Homo sapiens: one gene and its partners. The protein of the gene in region 3 interacts with the protein of the main gene of each other region in a biochemical or structural test. Each region holds a gene or a part of one and is shown on either strand. Other genes may lie near its edges.

The links.
Region 1: the proteins of FSTL1 (region 3) and DIP2A interact in a biophysical measurement, tested with the Homo sapiens proteins (one study listed by IntAct).
Region 2: the proteins of FSTL1 (region 3) and BMPR1A interact in a biophysical measurement, tested with the Homo sapiens proteins (one study listed by IntAct).

The regions. Positions count from the first base shown.
Region 1 is NC_000021.9:46,461,808-46,468,919, reverse strand, and holds part of DIP2A (disco-interacting protein 2 homolog A), read right to left. Parts: intron 6,450-7,112; exon of another isoform or gene 6,398-6,449; intron 6,209-6,397; exon of another isoform or gene 6,157-6,208; intron 5,855-6,156; exon of another isoform or gene 5,692-5,854; intron 1-5,691. UniProt on the Homo sapiens protein: Catalyzes the de novo synthesis of acetyl-CoA in vitro. Promotes acetylation of CTTN, possibly by providing the acetyl donor, ensuring correct dendritic spine morphology and synaptic transmission.
Region 2 is NC_000010.11:86,920,547-86,927,658, forward strand, and holds part of BMPR1A (bone morphogenetic protein receptor type-1A isoform 3 precursor), read left to right. Parts: intron 1-973; coding exon 974-1,149; intron 1,150-2,829; coding exon 2,830-2,960; intron 2,961-3,047; coding exon 3,048-3,173; 3' UTR 3,174-7,112. UniProt on the Homo sapiens protein: On ligand binding, forms a receptor complex consisting of two type II and two type I transmembrane serine/threonine kinases.
Region 3 is NC_000003.12:120,447,892-120,454,945, forward strand, and holds the start of FSTL1 (follistatin-related protein 1 precursor), read right to left. Parts: upstream 3,102-7,054; 5' UTR 3,006-3,101; intron 2,856-3,005; coding exon 2,793-2,855; intron 2,764-2,792; exon of another isoform or gene 1-2,763.

The DNA of each region.
Region 1 (7,112 bases), on a different chromosome or scaffold from region 3:
CTGGCAATGAAGCATGTTTAAAGTTTTAGGATATTAAAATTGAAATCACTGATATTTCTTTTTTTAAATCGACATGATTAACCTATAAGAACTCGTGCATATTTAATATATAAATTTTGATGAATTTAAAGGTAAGTATATCCCTGTGAAACCATCACCATAAACATAAACATAAACATCATCTCTAAAAGTTTCTTCCTTTCCTGTTTGTGATAAGAACATTTAACATGAGCTCTACTCTCTTAACAAATTTTTAAATATACAATACAGTATTGTTAACTATATGCACTATGCTGTACAGCAGCTCTCTAGCAGTTACTCATCCTGTATAACTGAAACTATATACCCTTTGATCAACACCTTCCAGATTCTCCCACCACCCCAGTCTCTGGCAACCACCATTCTACTCTCTGCTTCTATGAGTCTGACTATTTTAAATTTCTGACACAAGTGGGCTTGTGTAGGATTTGTTCTGGCGCCGATTTTCTCTCTTTTTTTTTTTTTTTTAGACAGGGTATCATGGAGTGCAGTGGTGCAATTTCAGGTCACTGCAGCCTCCACCTCCCAGGTTCAAGCGGTTCTCCCTGCCTCAGCCATCAGAGTAGCTGGGATTATAGGCGTGCACCACCACACCCAGCTTTTTTTTTTTTTTTTTTTTGAGACAGTCTCACTGTCACCCAGGCTGGAGTGCAGTGGCACAATCTCAGCTCACTGCAGCCTCCGGCTCCTGGGTTCAAGAGATTCTCCTGCCTCAGTCTCCCGAGTAGCTGGGATTATAGGTACTTGCCCCCATGCCAGGCTAATTTTTTTTTTTATTTAGTAGAGGCGGAGTTTCACCATGTTGCCCAGGCTGGTCTCAAACTCCTGGCCTCAAGTGATCCGTCTACCTCGGCCTCCCAAACTGCTGGGATTACAGGCATGAGCCACTGCACCCAGCCCTAATTTTCATATTTTTTAGCAGAGATGGGGTTTCACCATGTCACTCAGGCTGATCCCAAACTCCTGAGTTCAAACGATCCAACCTCCTCAGCCATCCTCTTCGACCTCCCAAAGTGCTGGGATTATAGGTGTGAGCCACTGGGCCCAGCTGGCATTGATATTTTTAAAGAAACTTAGAAATCAAAATTTTGTACAAAGACACTTGTACTGGGATAATTTACTATGAAAAAAAAAACAAACAAAACCTAAAGAGGGTATTCCCGAAACATGAATAATAAATTTTGTTAGTGCAACAGACAAGCAACTAGTCAGTAAGTGTAACTTTTAAAGATTTTCAAACATGTTTTATAAATTTAAATGCCTGATTGTCCTTACATACACAAACTGAAATAATTATTAAACTAGGCAATAGCTTTAAAATGTTACAAAAAATATAAAGAAATAGATGATGACATCCATGTCTTTCAGCTACTATGTTCTAGTTATTCAAGAGACTGAGGCAAGAAGATCATTTGAACCCAGGAGTTAAAGGCAGCAGTGAGCTATCCTCACACCACTGCACTCCCAACTGGGCAACAGAGCGAGACACTATCTTAAAAAACAAACAAACAAACAAACAAACAAAACTAATACTGTGAAATTTTTTAAATATTTAACTCATTTAAATTTTTTTTTTTTTTTTTTTGAGACGGAGTCTCGCTCTGTAGCCCAGGCTGGAGTGCAGCGGTGCGATATCGGCTCACTGCAACCTCCGCCTCCCAGGTTCACGCCATTCTCCTGCCTCAGCCTCCCGAGCAGCTGGGACTACAGGCACCCACCACCACGCCCGGCTGATTTTTTGTATTTTTAGTAGAGACAGGATTTCGCTGTGTTAGCCAGGATGGTCTCGACCTCCTGACCTCGTGATCCGCCCGCCTCGACTTCCCAAAGTGCTGGGATTACAGGCGTGAGCCACCGCGCCCGGCCTAACTCATTTAAAATTTTTAATAATAAACTGACTAGATATTAAGGTAAATAATATTTTTTACTAAAAATAAAAGATTTCTGAAAACAAAAACATTTAGTAAGAAGAGGTATTCTTTTACATTTTTGCAAGTTGCTTTAACTCTGGCTTCAGAGAAGACAATATGGATTCTCATACCTGCTCCTGTATCCAATCTGTTGTACTGTGTGGTTTTTTTGGTTGAAGTCTATGAATCAAATCCTTTTTCAGAGAGACATGCAGTTGGAAAAAGGTGGGGTGTCTCAGCAGCCTTTTCAGATCACTGTGGACATTCTTCCTTGATACAACACCAAAACCAGGCAAGGGGGAGTCTCTTAAAAAAAAAAAGTTGTGGCCGGGAGTGGTGGCTCAGGCCTGTAATCCCAGCACTTTAGGAGATCAATGCGGGCGGATCACGAGGTCAGGAGTTCGAGACCAGCCTGACCAACACGTGAAACCCAATCTCTACTAAAAATACAAAAATTAGCCAGGCATGGTGGCAGGCACCTGTAATCCCAGCTACTCAGGAGGCTGAGGTAGGAGAATCACTTCAACCTGGGAGGCAGAGGTTGCAGTGAGCTGAGATCGCGCCACTGCACTCCAGCCTGGGAGACAGAGCAAGACTCCATCTCAAAAAAAAAAAAAAAAAAAAAAAAGTTATAATGTAGAATCTATAACTCTTATCAGTGAACTTTTCATATCACTACATTAAAATCCATTGGTCTATCTTTTGAATGAATCTTTTACCCATGCACTATGACTTTGTAACGTGGTGCAATGGTGAGCTGGAAAATATTAGTTCACAAAATTATGTGGATCTTCCAAATGCTGACACATTTAATTATATAATATCAAATACTCATTCATTATATTGTCACCAATCTCATCAAAGAAGTCGTTAACTATTGAGAAACTGTCAAGCTCACTGTAGCAGATAAATTTTTTCAAAATTTTGATTTTTGCTTGAAAGCACAAATATTATCATTGGTCATAAATTGTCAGTTATTTCCTCTCATTTATTTTCCAGAAAACGTCCACCAAATACCCAAGTCTCAATAACTGCAGATTGTCTGCTACCCACTTTTTCAAGCAAAAATGGCATTTCACAATAAAAGCAGCTAGTTCGCTTTGCAACTCAAACTACACAATTGCTGTTTCTCAAAACAGGCACTGTACCTCTTTGTGCAGCAAAAGCAATTCATGTACTTCCCATTTCCTCATGAAAAGACAAAAGGCCAATTTTTTTTTTTAATTTTTACTGCTTCATCAGGGTCTGTTTAAGTGAAAGCAGCCCTTTTTGTTTTTTTAAAACTGCAAGTGGAGAGGTAGCGAATAATATAATGACTATCAGTGACACTTGGAGTCCCTGCCTCAATTTACGTTAAAGTGCCCAGCAGTTTTCCCTATTACTGCTTTTGGACCATCAGTACAAGTGTCAACACAGTGAAAACAGAAATGGCATCTTAGTATCATTATAAAAATAGTCTCCCTCTGCCTCCTGGGTTTGAGCGATTCTCCTGCCTCAGCCTCCCACGTAGCTGGGATTACAGGCACGTGCCACCATGACCAGCTAATTTTTTTTTTGTTATATTTAGTAGCAACGGGGTTTTGTCATGTTGGTCAGGCTGGTCTCGAACTCCAGACCTCAGGTGATCCAACCACCTCGGCCTCCCAAAGTGTTGGGATTACAGGAGTGAGCCACCATGCCCAGCCAAAATCTGACTTTTGACAGCTGAAATATTACCTAGGATGCAGTGGACACTGAATAATTACTGAATAAGTGAAAACAAATACAAAAACAAAAAGCAGCAAGAACTCCAAAAGAGGGGACAAATGATATGGAAGTTCTGAGAAAGCAGTCACATTAGAGATGATCAAGGAAGGTTCAAAATAAGAGGGTGCTTTGAATATTCCCTCAAAGTTTCTTTTCAGCAATTTATTCTATATTATAAAGATCCTCACCATTCTTATCCATCATTCAAAGGAAATTCTGCTTTCCTGAAACAACAAATATTGGTTCAAATTCTGAATTGTGTTCAGAAGAATTATCATCATTAAGTACCATTTAACTAAAGTGCTCTAGAAAATAATCTACATGCTGTTCCAGGAGAACTTCCCTATCTCATATTCTGACATTTGTTGTGTGTTTTCTTGAAAAAAAAAAAAAAAAAAAAAAAAAAAGACATGAATATTAAGAAAAAGGAAGAAACTCAGTGCCCAATGCAGCAGTGTTGAGCGGCAGAACCTTTAAGAGATGATCAGTGGATTAATGCTGTTATCGCAGGGACAGGTTAGTTATCAGGAATGCGTTCCAGACAAAAGGATGATTTTGGCCCCCTTCCTCTCTCGTCCACACATTCTCTTGCCTTCTCACCTTCCACCATGGGATGACAGGCCAAGAAAGTCCTTGCTAGATGCTAGTACCTTAATATTGGACTTCCATCCTCTGGAACTGTGAGAAATAAATTTTTCTTTGTAAATTACCTATATGTGGTGTTCTGTTATAGAACACAAACACAACACAAAATAGACTAAGATAGAGAGCATTTGGGGTGGCCTTTGACAGATGAGTAGAATCTGAACATGAGAACGTTTTTCTTTTTTTGAGACGAAGTTTCGCTCTTGTTGCCCAGGCTGGAGTGCAATGGTGCAATCTCGGCTCACTGCAACCTCTGCCTCCCAGGTTCAAGTGGTTCTCCTGCCTCAGCCTCCCAAGTAGCTGGGATTACAGGCATACGCCACCACGCCCGGCTAATTTTTTGTATTTAGTAGAGATGGGGTTTCACCATGTTGGTCAGGCTGGTCTGGAACTCCTAACCTCAGGTGATCCACCCGCCTCAGCCTCCCAAAGTGCTGGGATTACAGGTGTGAGCCACTGCGCCTGGCTGAACATGAGAACTTTTATATACCACAAAATATTCAAGAAGCACAACAAATGTTTATTAACACAAAGGCAATGACAGGCTGTCATTTTGAAAATTAAGAATTATGGGCCAGGCGCGATGGCTCATGCCTGTAATCCCAGCACTTTGGGAGGCCGAGGCAGGTGGATCACGAGGTCAGGAGTTCAAGACCAGCCTGGCCAATATGGTGAAATCCTGTCTCTACTAAAGATACAAAAAACTAGCCAGGCGTGATGGCGTGTGCCTGTAATCCCAGCTACTCAGGAGGCTAAGACAGGACAATTGCTTGAACCCGGGAGGTGGAGGCTGCAGTGAGCCGAGATCGCGCCACTGAACTCCAGACTGGGCAACAGAGTGAGACTCCGTCTCAAAATATACACACACACACACACACACACACACACACACACACACAAATATATCCCAGATTTTAGAAATTAAAGACAGTTAAAGAGGAAAAAAGCTTTGTGAGAGAAGTCTCTTCCTGTATACCCAGAGTTTTTTCCCCCTTTTCATTTTATTCCATCTAGACTAGAAGTCCTGCATTGTTAGAATATAAGAAATCAAGAAAAAGACTAAAGTTAAAGCTATGGAATAGACCTATTAACCAGAATAAAGTAATTGGAATGGGATAAAGGTAGCCTATTGTGTAGGAATTTCCTCTCTAACCCACTGTAGTCTATTAAAACAAAGAACAAAATACCACTGTCCATGTTTTTAAAGCAGTTCAGCAGCAATAGCTCCAAGACACGTACAGCACTGGTGTGCCAAAATCAGCTGTGAGGTGTGTCCAAGGTAATTTGTTACAGCAACAGGCAAAGCACAAAGGTTTGGGAATTAATTCTTTTTTAAATATCAAGGTTATACCTCTAATGATCTCACTTCCATCAATGAACATCCTGATAGGTTTTCAGGAACCACACATATGAATTCTTCTGTATGTGTTCATGATTGGGGGGCAGGGGGTCTAAGAAGAGTGGGGTTCCATGTACTTCTACTCTTCATCTTCATCTTAATCTGAAGCAGACTCCTAAGTCAAGAGGGCAAAACAGCCAGAAAAGTTAAGGAGCAAGAACACAGCTATGCCTTATTTCCCTCTTGGGAATCTATAACAGAAATTCAGCAAACTTGCCCTATGGAAATAAATCATAGCATTCTACCAGAACCTTCCCTCAGGGCCAACGCCAATCACTATGGTTGATGATGAGAATGCAGTGAGGATGCTGGAGAATAAGGCCAGGTGTGAGGTATGAAGAAAGGCAGAGGATACTTTCAACAGGCTGAGGGGAAGGCATGCAGGATTTTCTAGATTATTCAGGTATCACTCATTACCAGTTTCTGTTGAAGACAGCATCTTTGTCACTGTTAAGCTTCTTCTTCCAACCTACCAAGCACAGTGACAACTCTTAAGTTTTAGGCAATTTCTCACTTAGATAAATGTGAATGCTATAAAAAAGTTACACTATTTTGACAATATATAAAAATTATAACAATGAAACACTAATGTTGGTTGTTTTAGGACTATAACTCATTACTAATATCTCCCTTTAATTATATAAATAAAACACCTTACCAGTTTCGAAGCATTTTCACACACACTATGTGACTGAATCTTGACAATAAACCTGGAATGTCAATAAAGCTGGTATTCACCCCCTTTTACAGCTAACTAAACCCACGTTTAGAGACATTGTAATCCACAGGAGATTCACAGACACTTTACCAGATGCCCACCACTGTGTGAAGAAGCCAAAAATCTGCCTAAAACAAAGTCCTTACCAGTAAGCATCTCCAAATCCAACAGGGAGAGCCCACGTCAACAACAACCACCACATAAACTACATAAGCCAGCATTAACCTGTGGAAGCGCCCTGGAAGCAGGTCCACGTGTGACTGTGCCTAAGTAATCACTGACCTATTTTGGCCAAAAGAAAAGTGTCAGGCCAGTCTAGGAGCAGGGAAAGAAGCCAAGAAGCCAGAGCTTCCACCTCCTTGGCTGCCACTCTACTACTCTGTTCTCTGCTGTCTTCCCTTTAACACTTTTTTTTGAGACAAGGTCCCACTCTGTCTCCCAGGCTGGAATGCAGTGACACTATAAAGGCTCACAACCTCGTCAGGTGATCCTCCCACCTCGGCCCCTCAAGTAGCTGGGACTACAGGCACACACCACCATGCCCAGCCAATTTTTTTTTTTTTTTGGAAGAGGCAGGGTCTCCCTATGTTGCCTAGGCTGGTCTCAAACTCCTGGGCTCAAGTGATCCTCCTGCCTGGGCCTCCCAAAATGCAAA
Region 2 (7,112 bases), on a different chromosome or scaffold from region 3:
CAGTGTTCTGAGTCAGTGTAGTATTTGTTGGCTCAGATATTTATCAGATGCTATAGGAAAATACAACGCATTATATTGATCACTGCTTTAGAGTAATTATTACTAATTGTCAGTATGATCATGTAAACATTGCTAACAACAGAACTCTGTTGATGGGACCCATAAAGAAGAAAATGTAATCCTATGTCACAAAGCCTTAGTGTATCATATGAGAGTGGTAAAAGCAAGCGATTCCTCTTGTATTTTCATATTCACCACTTCTCAGACATAATTATCTACTACTTTATCTTTTTTTTTTCCTTTTCTTTTCTTTTTTTTTTTTTTTTTGAGAGAGATTCTCACTCTGTTGCCCAGGCTGGAGTGCAGTGGCATGGTCTCGGCTCACTGCAGTCTCCGCCTCCCAGGTTCAAGTAATTTTCGTGCTTCAGCCTCCCAAGTAGCTGGAATTATAGTCATGTGCCACCAACCCTGGTTAACTTTTGTATTTTATAGAGACAGTGTTTTACCATGTTGGCCAGGCTGATCTTGAACACCTGACCTCAGGTGATGCGCCCGCCTTGGCCTCCCAAAGTGCTGAGATTACAGGCATGAGCAACCGTGCCTGGCTTAACTTTATCTTATATTCAGTGTTGTCCTCTTTCTTAGACACCAGACTTATTTAGTGACAAAACCTGACCTGAACGGATGTGAGGTGTGTATTGCCCTTATCCAGTTGAGGAGGACTATCGGACTTAGTGTTTTGCTGTAGACACAGTACTGAGTACTGAGTTGGATTAAGAGTGCTGCCCCAACCCTGCTGAGGATGTCATGTAGTATGTAGCATGTATTTAAAGAAAAATCTGAAAAATGCTAAATTCCACAATGCATCTGGCCCCAAGGAGAAAAAGAAGCTTTTATAAAATAGGACAAAAATACAAGATAAACTATTTTATTTTTGGCCCTCAACTTGGACCTTGGCTTTCTTTTGTTTCAGTGACACAAATGAAGTTGATGTGCCCTTGAATACCAGGGTGGGCACCAAACGCTACATGGCTCCCGAAGTGCTGGACGAAAGCCTGAACAAAAACCACTTCCAGCCCTACATCATGGCTGACATCTACAGCTTCGGCCTAATCATTTGGGAGATGGCTCGTCGTTGTATCACAGGAGGTGGGAGTTTGAGTAGTTTCTGATTATGTTGATTTACTCATCATTTTAAAAATAACAGCTCCAGTTATATAACTTTTTAGTTTTTAATTTTTGTGGGCACATAGTAGGTGTATATATTATTGGATAAGGAGTTATTTTGATACAGGCATGCCATGTGTAATAATCACATCTTGGAGAATTGGATATCTGTCCCTTCAGACATTTATCCTTTGTTTCACCAACCAGTTATACTCCTTGAGTTATTTTTAAGTGTACAATTAAATTATTACTAACTGTAGTCCTCCCCGTTGTGCTATAAAATACCAAATACTTATTCATTCTTCTATTTTGTCTCTACTTATTAAACATCCCCCCCCATCTGCTGCTACCCTTCCCAACCTCTGGTAACCATCCTTCTGTTCTCCATGAGTTCAGTTGTTTTGATTTTTAGATCTCACAAGTAAGTGAGAACATGTGAAGTTTGTCTTTCTGTGCCTGGCTTATTTTACTTAACGTTATGACATCCAGTTCCTCCATGTTATTTCAGAAGGCAGAATCTCATTCTTTTTTCTGGCTGAATGATACTCCATTGTGTGTAGGTGCCACATTTTCTTGATGTGTTCATCTGTTGATGGTCACTTAGGTTGCTTCCACATCTTGGCTATTGTGAACAGTGCTGCAGCAAACATGAGGGTGCAGGTATCTCTTCGGTTAGCTGATTTCCTTTCTTTTGGGTATACACCTAGGAGTGCAATTGCTGGCAGTTACGTAATTTAGATGTCACATACGTCAGAGTCCCCAAGACCACCCCCAGGTTGTGCGATTTCACTTGAAGGACCACAGGACTCGGCATGTGGTTGTCCCAATGGCTAACATTTATCCCAGTGAAAGGATACAAATCAAAATCAGCCAAGTTTAGAAAACCAGGCGAGGCTTCCCAGAATCCTGTCCCAGCGGAGTCAGGGCGTGTGCTTCATTCCTCTTACTAGTTGTGACAACACATACAAAGTGTTCTCATTCGGGAAAGCTCCTTAGAGACTTGGCACCCAGAGATTTTACTGGAGGCTGGTCACATAGGCATCCTCTGCCTGGCATGTACCAGAATTCCAGCAGGAAAGCAGACGTGCAGTACACACCACATTGTTTGCACAAGCAGCCCAGGAGTGGTGAGTTACCCTCACCGTTTCCGGTAAGTTTTATATCCATGTAGGGAACTGTTTACCATTTGTGTACCCGGGCACTGGCCAAGGCCAAACCTTGCAAGCCGCCTTTCCTAAGGGAAGGTCTCAGGCCTGCTGTGTGAACCCTTATCTGCACCTCATAAGTCTTTCTACTGCAGAGCAAAATGAAACAAAATAATAAAAACTATTCATTAGTAGGAACAACCATATAAGTAAATAATTATACTTTAGGGTAAATGGCTGATTTCGCCTTGCTTATTTTTTTTAAGGAAGATTGATATGCCCTTTGTCGATGGACTCTATCACAGTTGTGATGACATCCCTGGTGGAGGTAGAGGAAATAGTTGGACATAAATAAGAGAAAAACATACATCTACTATTAAGAGTGAATCATAGTGTCTATATTTTTTCTTGTGTAAGAATCCGTTTTAGTTCCATAGTTTAGCAAAAGATGCTTACTAGATTGGTATATCTTGTCCAGCAACCATTTTTGTGCCCATGTTTTCTCATTCCCTTATAGGGATCGTGGAAGAATACCAATTGCCATATTACAACATGGTACCGAGTGATCCGTCATACGAAGATATGCGTGAGGTTGTGTGTGTCAAACGTTTGCGGCCAATTGTGTCTAATCGGTGGAACAGTGATGAAGTGAGTGGAACTCAGTCCCCTGAAGAAGTGATTCGTAAATGCCACCAAATATATTCTCTGCTCACTGAACATCTCTTTACTTTTCAGTGTCTACGAGCAGTTTTGAAGCTAATGTCAGAATGCTGGGCCCACAATCCAGCCTCCAGACTCACAGCATTGAGAATTAAGAAGACGCTTGCCAAGATGGTTGAATCCCAAGATGTAAAAATCTGATGGTTAAACCATCGGAGGAGAAACTCTAGACTGCAAGAACTGTTTTTACCCATGGCATGGGTGGAATTAGAGTGGAATAAGGATGTTAACTTGGTTCTCAGACTCTTTCTTCACTACGTGTTCACAGGCTGCTAATATTAAACCTTTCAGTACTCTTATTAGGATACAAGCTGGGAACTTCTAAACACTTCATTCTTTATATATGGACAGCTTTATTTTAAATGTGGTTTTTGATGCCTTTTTTTAAGTGGGTTTTTATGAACTGCATCAAGACTTCAATCCTGATTAGTGTCTCCAGTCAAGCTCTGGGTACTGAATTGCCTGTTCATAAAACGGTGCTTTCTGTGAAAGCCTTAAGAAGATAAATGAGCGCAGCAGAGATGGAGAAATAGACTTTGCCTTTTACCTGAGACTTTCAGTTCGTTTGTATTCTACCTTTGTAAAACAGCCTATAGATGATGATGTGTTTGGGATACTGCTTATTTTATGATAGTTTGTCCTGTGTCCTTAGTGATGTGTGTGTGTCTCCATGCACATGCACGCCGGGATTCCTCTGCTGCCATTTGAATTAGAAGAAAATAATTTATATGCATGCACAGGAAGATATTGGTGGCCGGTGGTTTTGTGCTTTAAAAATGCAATATCTGACCAAGATTCGCCAATCTCATACAAGCCATTTACTTTGCAAGTGAGATAGCTTCCCCACCAGCTTTATTTTTTAACATGAAAGCTGATGCCAAGGCCAAAAGAAGTTTAAAGCATCTGTAAATTTGGACTGTTTTCCTTCAACCACCATTTTTTTTGTGGTTATTATTTTTGTCACGGAAAGCATCCTCTCCAAAGTTGGAGCTTCTATTGCCATGAACCATGCTTACAAAGAAAGCACTTCTTATTGAAGTGAATTCCTGCATTTGATAGCAATGTAAGTGCCTATAACCATGTTCTATATTCTTTATTCTCAGTAACTTTTAAAAGGGAAGTTATTTATATTTTGTGTATAATGTGCTTTATTTGCAAATCACCCACTCCTTTACAACCATACTTTATATATGTACATACATTCATACTGTAGAAACCAGCTCATGTGTACCTCATATCCCATCCTTAAGAGAAGAAATGTTATAAAGTAGAACTAAATATAAATTTTCAGAATTAATGCATTCAAAGTAATATATCAAATCCAGGACTTTGTTAACTTCAGGTAAAAACTTCATTAGGGTAATATCATCTCAATTTTTTCAAATGAAAGGATTCTCTAATTAGAAATTTATATGTCAGAGCTGTTATAAATTTATCAACTGTCAAATATGTTCTGGACAGCTAAATCATTTGAGATTTTTGGTTTTTTGATTTCTATTCCCTAACTTGTGAAGACAATGAAAAATCAGGCAGAAATATTTAGTATCTAGTCAGTATCTGTAGCTACACTGTATAACTGTTCTTCAATAAAATGGTTCATATTTTATAGATGCCTTGTTATCTCAAGAAATCTGATTTACATAAACTTATACTTCTTTAATGCTTTTTAAATATTTATTCTGAGCAAACAATTCATGAGTACATCAAGTGAGATAGTTTTATTTGATTATAACATAAAATAAATGTGATTATATCACATCATCATCAAAAAGGTTTAAATTAAATGGGAGGAAATCAGCATATGTCCACCCATTACCAAAATTTGACTATCATTTAAGGTTAAAACTTACAAATTTGTCTGCACATCAAATTTCACAAATTTGAAAATTGCCTTAACCATTTTGATTAATAAGTTTCATCTGCCATAATTAAAGTCTGAAGTGTTCATCAAGATAAGTAAATTTGCATATGGATAATACCCAATAACTTGTTTTTTCAGAATTTTTCACCATATGTATACTGAGAAATACAAATATTTTAATCTGCGTTGCCGTATGATATGATTGCACTTAGAACACCCAATTTACTTAAATCTTGGTTTACTTTTGACTTGATACCATAATCTTTAAAATCATTTGTCATCTTTTTTTTTTTTTTTTTGAGACGGAGTCTCGCTCTGTCGCCCAGGCTGGACTGCGGACTGCAGTGGCGCAATCTCGGCTCACTGCAAGCTCCGCTTCCCGGGTTCACGCCATTCTCCTGCCTCAGCCTCCCGAGTAGCTGGGACTACAGGCGCCCGCCACCGCGCCCGGCTAATTTTTTGTATTTTTAGTAGAGACGGGGTTTCACCTTGTTAGCCAGGATGGTCTCAATCTCCTGACCTCATGATCCACCTGCCTCGGCCTCCCAAAGTTCATTTGTCATCTTAATAAAAATATAAAGACAGGCAAAGTTTATTGGAAATGTTCAAATGGTGTGTGGAAGCAAAAAATTACAGCCAGTATATGAGACCACTATTATGGTTTTTTAAAATTAACTTGGTCTAGTAAAAGTGATATCAAGAGTTAATCTTAGAAACTTGCTCAGTAAAAACATTTTCTAGTATAACATGTTCTTTAAAAAGCAAATGCTGCCGTCTTTGGAATCTTAATCTAAAAATGTGGCCGGGCGCGGTGGCTCACGCCTGTAATCCCAACACTTTGGGAGGCTGAGGCGGGTGGATCACAAGGTCAGGAGTTCAAGACCAGCCTGGCCAACATGGTGAAACCCCATCTCTACTAAAAATAAAAAACTCAGCCAGGCGTGGTGGCGGGTGCCTGTAATCCCAGCTACTCGGGAGGCTGAAGCAGGAGAATTGCTTAAAATCAGAAGGTGGAGGTTGCAGTGAGCTGAGATCGTGTCACTGCACTCCAGCCTGGGCAAAAGAGCGAAACTCCATCTCAAATAAACAAACAAATAAATAACAAAAAACAAAAATGTTGCATTAAACTTAGTTCTTGTCTCTCCTTTCCACTCTTATTCTTAAATCTGAAGCTCATCGACTAAGTGAAATATTTAAAGAATATGATAGGCCAGCAAGAAGAAGTATTATGTAGTACCATAGTTAGTAAATTCGTAAAACCTTGGAAGCCATTATTTGGTCCCACTTGCAATTTAGTGTTTTTGAAGTGTGTAGCTTCATTCAGATAGCTCTTTAAATAATTAAAATATAAAAGCAAACAACCCAAACTACCTGACTATAAACAGGAAAAGTTAACCCTCAAAGAGAGTTCTTGTGAATTCTCTTTATGCTGGCAAATAGCTCTAGGATTAAAGGCACATTAGGGTTTCCTTCAGTTTGTTTATTCTAAGCTTTTACTGTGCTTTTTACTGAACAAGTTTCTGATGTATAAAACTTGCATCTGATTTCTTTGGAAATATTTTCACAAAAGTTATTTTAATCAGTATTTTTACATTGCCTTTCCAGTGTCCAGAAGTGTTTCTAAACTTAGAAAGTGACCTATAGTTTTTTAAAATTATGTTTTCCTAGAACGTGCCAAATTTTGATTTACTCTAACAATCAGTACTTTTCTTCAGATGCTTTGTTCTGTTTAGAACAAAAATGCACTATAGTTTTTAAAGAATCATGCATCTTTGGGTTGGCCCAGGATCAAATTTGATATTGAATAATTTATTCCAGGGCAGCTTTCATAAACATACTTCATAGATGTTGTTTTGAAATGTTTCTAAATATCTAAAATCATTTCAACAGCAGAAATGATTTTTATTTTAACAAAAGATTATGATAGCCCTTGTAGTGTTTAAAAGTGGTCATATTTATTACTGACTTTGAGTCAGGTGTTAAAATAGCAGTGCCACAGCTCGTCTCTTGCCTTAGTGTGCTGCTGTGAGAGTCACAGTGGAAACTGCAGGGAGGAGGTGTGTTCCTAAGAACCAAAATCCAGCACAGCATCCTGTGAAGCCACGTGTAATGATGGTCCCATAAGGAAAGTATGTGAATATGGCTCTTGTAAAGGATTAACTATTGTAATTTTAGCTTATGCTCTGTATTCTGTTTTCTATGGAATTATTTAAGCCCTT
Region 3 (7,054 bases):
CCTCCCGTCTTGGCCTCCCAAAGTGCTGGGATTACAGGCATGAGCCACTGAGCCCAGGCTCCTTTATGACTTTTGTTAATAGCTTTGTGAATCTAACCAAATGGGATTGACATAGACTGGCATTAATACTGATGACAATCACCTTTTCCCAAGTGGAGAGCACCTCTGATTCTGGTTTACTACAGAGGCTCTGGCTTCTTCAAATATCAACATGATTTGTAAAGTGATTAAATTGTTTAAAAATATGCTGAATTAAATATTTATGGTCGCAGAAAAGCAGAAAGCACCAAGAAGCCTCAATTTATTTTCTAAATTTCATTTCTAAAAAGTTCAACAATATTTGTACAATTTTAGCGATTTGAAGTTTACTAAAATAGATTGTCACTAAGGACTGTAAATATCATGATGTGACCATTTTTGCAGACTGTCCTTAGAGTTAACAAGGAAGAAATTTAAACAGCAAGCACCATTAACTACAAGATAAAAGGCTTTTAAAAAATCCAAATTACAATTCCCATAGGGAGAGGGTTAATGTACCTCTTCATCAATTGTTAAAGGTATATTATTATTAAATGGATTAAAAACTTGCCAAATCTTACTTGGCCAGGCACCAGGAGGTTGGAATAATTAAAAGATAATAATCCTTAATAACCTGGAGCCATGAAATGTAACCTAGCTCATACCTACCCCTCACTCTTTTCATTGTAACCATTTCCATACACTGTGAGTTCACAGCCTCTTTTCTCCCCCAACGCACTCTGTTTTCACATCTCAGTACTTCTCTATTTTGCCTTCTTCCCTGTAGTTTGCCTGGGAATTATGTGAGAGCACTGGATGCTCTTCTACCTCCAGCAGGAAATTGCTGCTGGGGGAACTTCCTACCAGGGATAAGTTTTCCCTGTGTGGAAGGGGGTTGGGAGGGGTGTGTGTCTTGCAGGCCGCCTAGAATAGATTCCAGACCTTGGGCCACACAGCCTGGTAAGTCAACCAACAGCCTCCTCACACCTCATATTTGCATTCCAGTTCACTGAGTGATTTCACACACTGGCTGGCAATTCTTGAGCCTGCTGGAAAACCAACCAGGGATTCACCTCATCCATCACTGGTCTGCAACTGCCTTTTGAGGGCCACAGCAGGGGATGGAGAAATGTTTCTTAACCAGGGCTACATCAGCCAGTGAAGGGGGATACGCTCTCAAATGCAAACCCTGGAAAACCAGATGGATAAGAAGCAGACCTGGAGTTCAAGATGGGCTCCAAAGGTAAGAGAGGTAGGTTCAGATCCTGCTTCAGAGCTAACTAGTTGTATGACCCTGGGCAAGTTACCTAATCTCCTTAAACCTGTTTCTTCCTCTGTAAAATCGGGATAATAAAACCTACATTACAGGGTTTGGGAGCTTTAAAAGAAGTAACTGCAGGTAACGTACACAGCCCAGTGTGTGGTAAACAAAAATGTACTTGGTAAATGTTAAACCATTGTGCTTGGAAGTGGTGTGGGTTAATGGTCAAGAGCCTTGGGTCCGGAGCCAGACTGTTTGGGTTCAAATCCCACCCTTAGCATTTAATAGCTGAGAGCATTGGGTAACCTTCGCTGACTCAATTTATCTGTCATTAAAATGGAATTTTATTACAACATAGCAGATATTTAATAAATATTAGCTACTTTTATTTCATTGGCAGTAAAAACAGTTGATTGAGTTTCCACCTCAATCAACAACGTAGTAGTGAATTAAATGAGAATTCAGTACAATGCGTATTTTTTAAAAATTGTGAAGACCTTGTATGCATTTATGACTTTTTTGGGCAGAGTCAAGCTGCGATGCTAAGGGTGTGGTTAAACTGTAATATGAAGGAAAAAATTCAAACAGGGAGCATAAACCACCCACCAGGGAGCTATTTCTTTTGTAATGTGCATTCCATTTCTTCTCCCTCATGCTTTTTAATTCCTTCCATATTTCCTGCCATAATTATCAAATGTTTAGTTTCTGACCTCACTTTCCTGGAGACTGGAGCCCGGGGAATTTAGAATTGTTTATTTTCTGTCCATAAACCTTTGAGTTAATGGAGCGGCTTCTGAGCAAAGAGTTTGTTGGTTTGTTTGTAGTGTCTCAGGAAGGTCGTTAGAGTTGAAAAAATTGGTACAAAAAAACAAGCGCTGAAATGCTTTAACTGGAAACTCGAGCCCCCAAAGAGCAGAGCAATGGATCTTCTCTTACACTTGCGCAACGTTACAGGGAACACTTGGGAAAAGGCCGTTACATTGCCCAGATGATAACACAAAACCCGAGGACACTTCACAAAGAAGAAAATACATTTCAGAGAATCATGATCTCACTTTAAAAGAGAGAAAGGAAAATTAATTTTGCCCCAAAAGAAGAATCCCGATTCCTCTGCCCCCGCCCCCAGGAGACAGACTTGGGAGGGAAAAGTCCCCAACTACTCTCAGTCTCCTCTGAAGTGAAGGACGGAACTGAGGCGCCTTTTTGAACTCGCTGCTGCTCCAGTCGCCGCCTCGTCCCCGTCGGCCCAGCCCGTCCCCTCTCCTCCTCCCCGCTCTCCCTCCATGTTAGCCGCGGCGGGGCTCCCGCTTACGGCCCGAACTACTTTTCCTGCTTTAAAGATTTAAGTTTCGTAAGCAGCATTACTGCCCCAGCTCCACCCCAGCACACCCCAAGGACCGAAACTCCCAGCGCCACCCCGGGAGAGCATCCCCAGGACGCGCGCCCACCCGCCCAGCGCGCAGACCCAAGAGGCCCCGGGGACCGAGTTCGGACTCCTCGGCCCCTCGCCTACCTCGGCGCGGACCCAGGCGACCGCCACCAGCGCGAGCGCGAGCGCGAGCCAGCGTTTCCACATCTGCGGAAGAGAGAAGAGAGCGAGTCTGAAGGCGCCGGGCCCCGCGCTGACCTGGGAAACTTGCTCGGGTCCCGCAGGCTCGCTCCGGCCGCCCAAGCACCCCCGGCCGCCCGAAGAGTCCGGCCTCCGCGCCGTGCGCCCTGCGCTCACCGTGGTCTGGTCCAGGTCTCCTGGGGGCGCGGGGCAGGACGGCGGCAGCGAGCTGTAAGCGGAGGTGGGAGCTCCGCCGATCGCCAGCCTCGGAGGAAATGCGACCTCCCCTCGCCGCCCCTTAAGACCTCTCCTTCCCCGCCTGCCTGCCCCCCCAGCTCCTCCCCATTCTCCTCCCCCTTCTGCTGCAGCGGCCCCCGCGGCTCCCGCTCCCCCTCCTTCCGACCCCTGCTCCGGGGAGCCCGCGGGAGTCCTGGCGCCGCCGAACCCCTCTCTCCGCACGGTCCCTCGTCCGGCGCCCCTTCGGCCCCCTGGACGTGGAGCGGAGGCAGAGGGGGTGTCCCGTGGGTCCCTGCCACAAAGGGGTAGGGGGAAGGGAAACCCCACCCCGGGAGGGGCTGCTGGCTGGCGGCGGCCCGGGCGGGCTGCGGCGGTGGCCAGGTGGGCGGTGCCGTGGGGGGCCCGGGAAGGTCCGGGACTGGAACCTGGAGGAAAAGACGTCCCGCGGCCTAGGAAGCGGAGCCGCCCCCCATGGCTGAAGGGGGAGGCCCAGGGAGGCAGAGGAGACCCCGCATCCCGGGGTCACGGCAGCAGGGCAGCGGGGCACCGGGAAGTGGGCGCAGGGCCGGGAAGACCGGCCGGCGTGGGGAAGGCTGCTGTGGGTTCTACAGTGCATTGTCCCGGGTGAGGTGGCGGCCGCCCTGCTCTGCTGGGAAGATCCTGAGTCCAGCGTTTGCCGGCAGCCTCATCCCCTCCTTCCCTCGGGCCGGGGAGCGGTGTCCCCCTCCTCTCTTCCGCCCACTCACTCATCACCTGTGTCCCTCCTCCCATCCCTGTCATCCCAAGTAGCCTCTGTGTTCAGGATTGCCATCTTCACCACCTTCTTCCCAGCCCTTGGCCTTCGAAAGTGTGCTACCTCTTTGACAGGGTTAACTCCCTAAAATGCTCCTAATTAAGGCGCCTTTCCTGCCATAACTAGTAAGGAGAGCAGATCCACTTAGCAACTCAGATTTCACATGCCCAAGACTAAGCCTCACTTCCCCCAGCTTCAGGGCCTGCTTATCTACCTCTTTCAGGGTGGTTGCCTTCAAACCTATCTCCTTTTCTCAGAGCCGGCTTGTACCCATAGCCTGGCAGTTTAGCCGCTGAGATCTCATATGCATCCCCTCGCCTCCGTTCACATGTCCACTTTCCTAGGCCAGACCTTCATCCTCCCTCACTCAGAAATTCTGGAAACCTCCTTTCGTTGTCCTCTGACTCCAGGCTCTCCCCTGTAGTCTCCACTGCAATCCATTGTCATATTCTTTCCCTTATTTTAAACATTGTCTTCCTCGTGTTCATGTTCTTCCTCTACTCAGAAACTTCAGCGTTCTTCTACCCACATCAAATCCAAACTCTGCCTTTCTTATAAGCCCTGCATTACTGGGCCCACCCTGTCCATCTAACTTCTCTTCAACTACATCAGCATACTTCCTCCGCTCAAAGCAGGCCCATCTCCTCGTTGTCCTCTGAACTTGTCATACTCACTCTGCTGCCAAGGTTTGTTGAGTGCCCACTGTTGTGGCTTTAGGGGGCTTCAAGATAATACCCATGGTCCCCATGTAAGTTCAGAATCCACTGAGATAGCAACAGGAGTCAGACTTATGGAGAGCAAAATGTCAGCTTTGTCTCTGCTAAAGGCTGGAATGGCAGCCATGGCTTTAGATCTGCAGGGACAGCGGGCCCAGAATTGAACATGTCCACTCAGTCACAAGCAGAGCTGGAAAACCTGCCTGTGTAAAAACTAAACTGCATGGAAAAGCAGAAAATATGTGCCTCCTGGGACATGCCTGCTCCCCAAACTTGAGGGGGTAGAGTGACACATCCCCAGTTCTTTCAAACTCTCCAGTCAGACAACTTACTCCTGCTCCCTTGTTATGGTAATAAGATTAGGGAATAGATGTTCCGCACCAGATACTCTGTCTTGGTCACTGTGCAAGGATTGAAGGGAACTATTGTGGATAAAGTTCTGCCCTCGAATAACGCACAATACATTGCATCCCTTGCAGATCCACTGCACCCTCTCAGAATCTGGTATCATCTTTCCTCCCTTCCTCTTATCTACTAAAATGCTTGGGTTTGTTTGTTTGTTTTGTTTTCAGGAACCACGTCAAGTTTGCTTCCTTCATATCTTTTCTGACAACAGCTTGGCATGGTAGAAGGCACAGGAGGTTTGAGGTCAAACCAATCTGGCTTTCCATCCTATCACTGCCATTTACTAGCTGCATGGCCTGACTTGCATCAAATAATAAGCCCTCTGAACCTAGGTTTCTGCCTCTGACAAATGGCAGTGATAATGCCTTGCAGGGAGTTGTGAAATTTAAGCAGATGCATATAAAAAGTGCCTGGCAGGTAGTAGACCTCTGTATGTGATAGCCATTATTATTTCATGATCGGCTTTGCATCTAAATTGTAGTTGGTACTATACACCAGGTACTATGAAAGCCATTCAACATCTCTTATTTTATTTAATTTTCACAATAGATAGAAAGGAGGCTGGGCACGGTGGCCCATGCCTTGTAATCCCAGCACTTTGGGAGGCCAAGGCAGGCGGATCACTTGAGGCCGGGAGTTCGAGACCAGCTTAGCCAACATGATTAAACCCCGTCTCCACTAAAAATACAAAAATTAGATGGGTATGGTGGTGGGCACCTGTGGTGCCAGCTACTTGGGAGGCTGAGGCACCAGAATTGCTTGAACCCGGGAGGCAGAAGTTGCAGTGAGCCGAGATTGTGCCACTGCACTCCTGCCTGGGCAATAGAGAGAGACTCCATCTCAAAAAAATAATAACAATAAAAAATAAAAATTTAAAAAATACAGTAAATGGAAAGGTCTTTTTTATTGCTTCCGTTTTCCAAATAAAACTGAAGCTCAGGAAGATTTAGATACTTTCCCAAGTTTATACTGTTGGCTACACAGCCTTACAACTTGGGGCATTATATTGCAGACTGCTATACAATGTTTAACACTTGTTCTCATAGTTATTCTTGATTCTCCAGCTAGTTTTAAGTTGCTTAGAGCAAAAACAATGTTTTTCATATCTTTATCCTCTCTACATTTGGAACACAATTAATGGATTTGAGTATATCAAAATGAAATGAAAGATTCCTGTTCAACTGAGGGCACCATAGACAAAATGATAGAAGGAGATATAAATGTCTAAAACTGACATGTAACTCATAACACACACACATACACACACCCTGCAAATCAATCAGAAAAAGAAAACCCAATAAAAAAGGGCAATAGGTATGAATAGGCAATTCCCAAAAGGGGAACCCCAAATGGACAATAAATATAGAAAAGATACTCAACATCACTACTATTATTTAAATTGCACAACAACCATTTGAAATCAGTATTATTTTATTATCTCCAATATACAGATGAAGAAACACACACAGAGTTTAAGTAGTTTGTCCAAAGTTATACAGTAAATTATAAATGTCACTTTACACTCATCACAGTGGCAAAAATCAGACAGTTGGACAATATCAGTGTTAGCATGTGACTAGTGCAATCTTTGTGGTGTACTGTAGCAATTAAAAGCATGGGTTTATGAGACAGACTGCCTTGGTACAAAATTGCCTTGGTAGTAAATCTTAGCTTTACTACTTATTATGTAACCTTGGGCAAGTTACTTAACCCCTTGCATCTCAGTTGCCTCATCTGTAAAATCGTGATAATTGTACTGATTTCATAGAGCTATTGTGTAGATTAAATGTATCAATATGTAAAGTACTTAGAATAGTGTCTGGTACACAGTAAGCATATAAATAAGATGTATTACTACGGAAATAATTCACTAGAGAGCTCTTACAGGTACTGATGATAAAACTGTGCTGTGGCGTATGGTTAACTCTACAATAAATAAAGCAAAAGACAAAAATAAACTATGCAGTGGAGAAAATATTTTGAAATGAGATATTTGGAAATGTCTTATCATTAGGCTATTTTGTTATCCAAAACAATAAAAGTGTGGCACCATAAAAACTCTCGTGTATGCACAT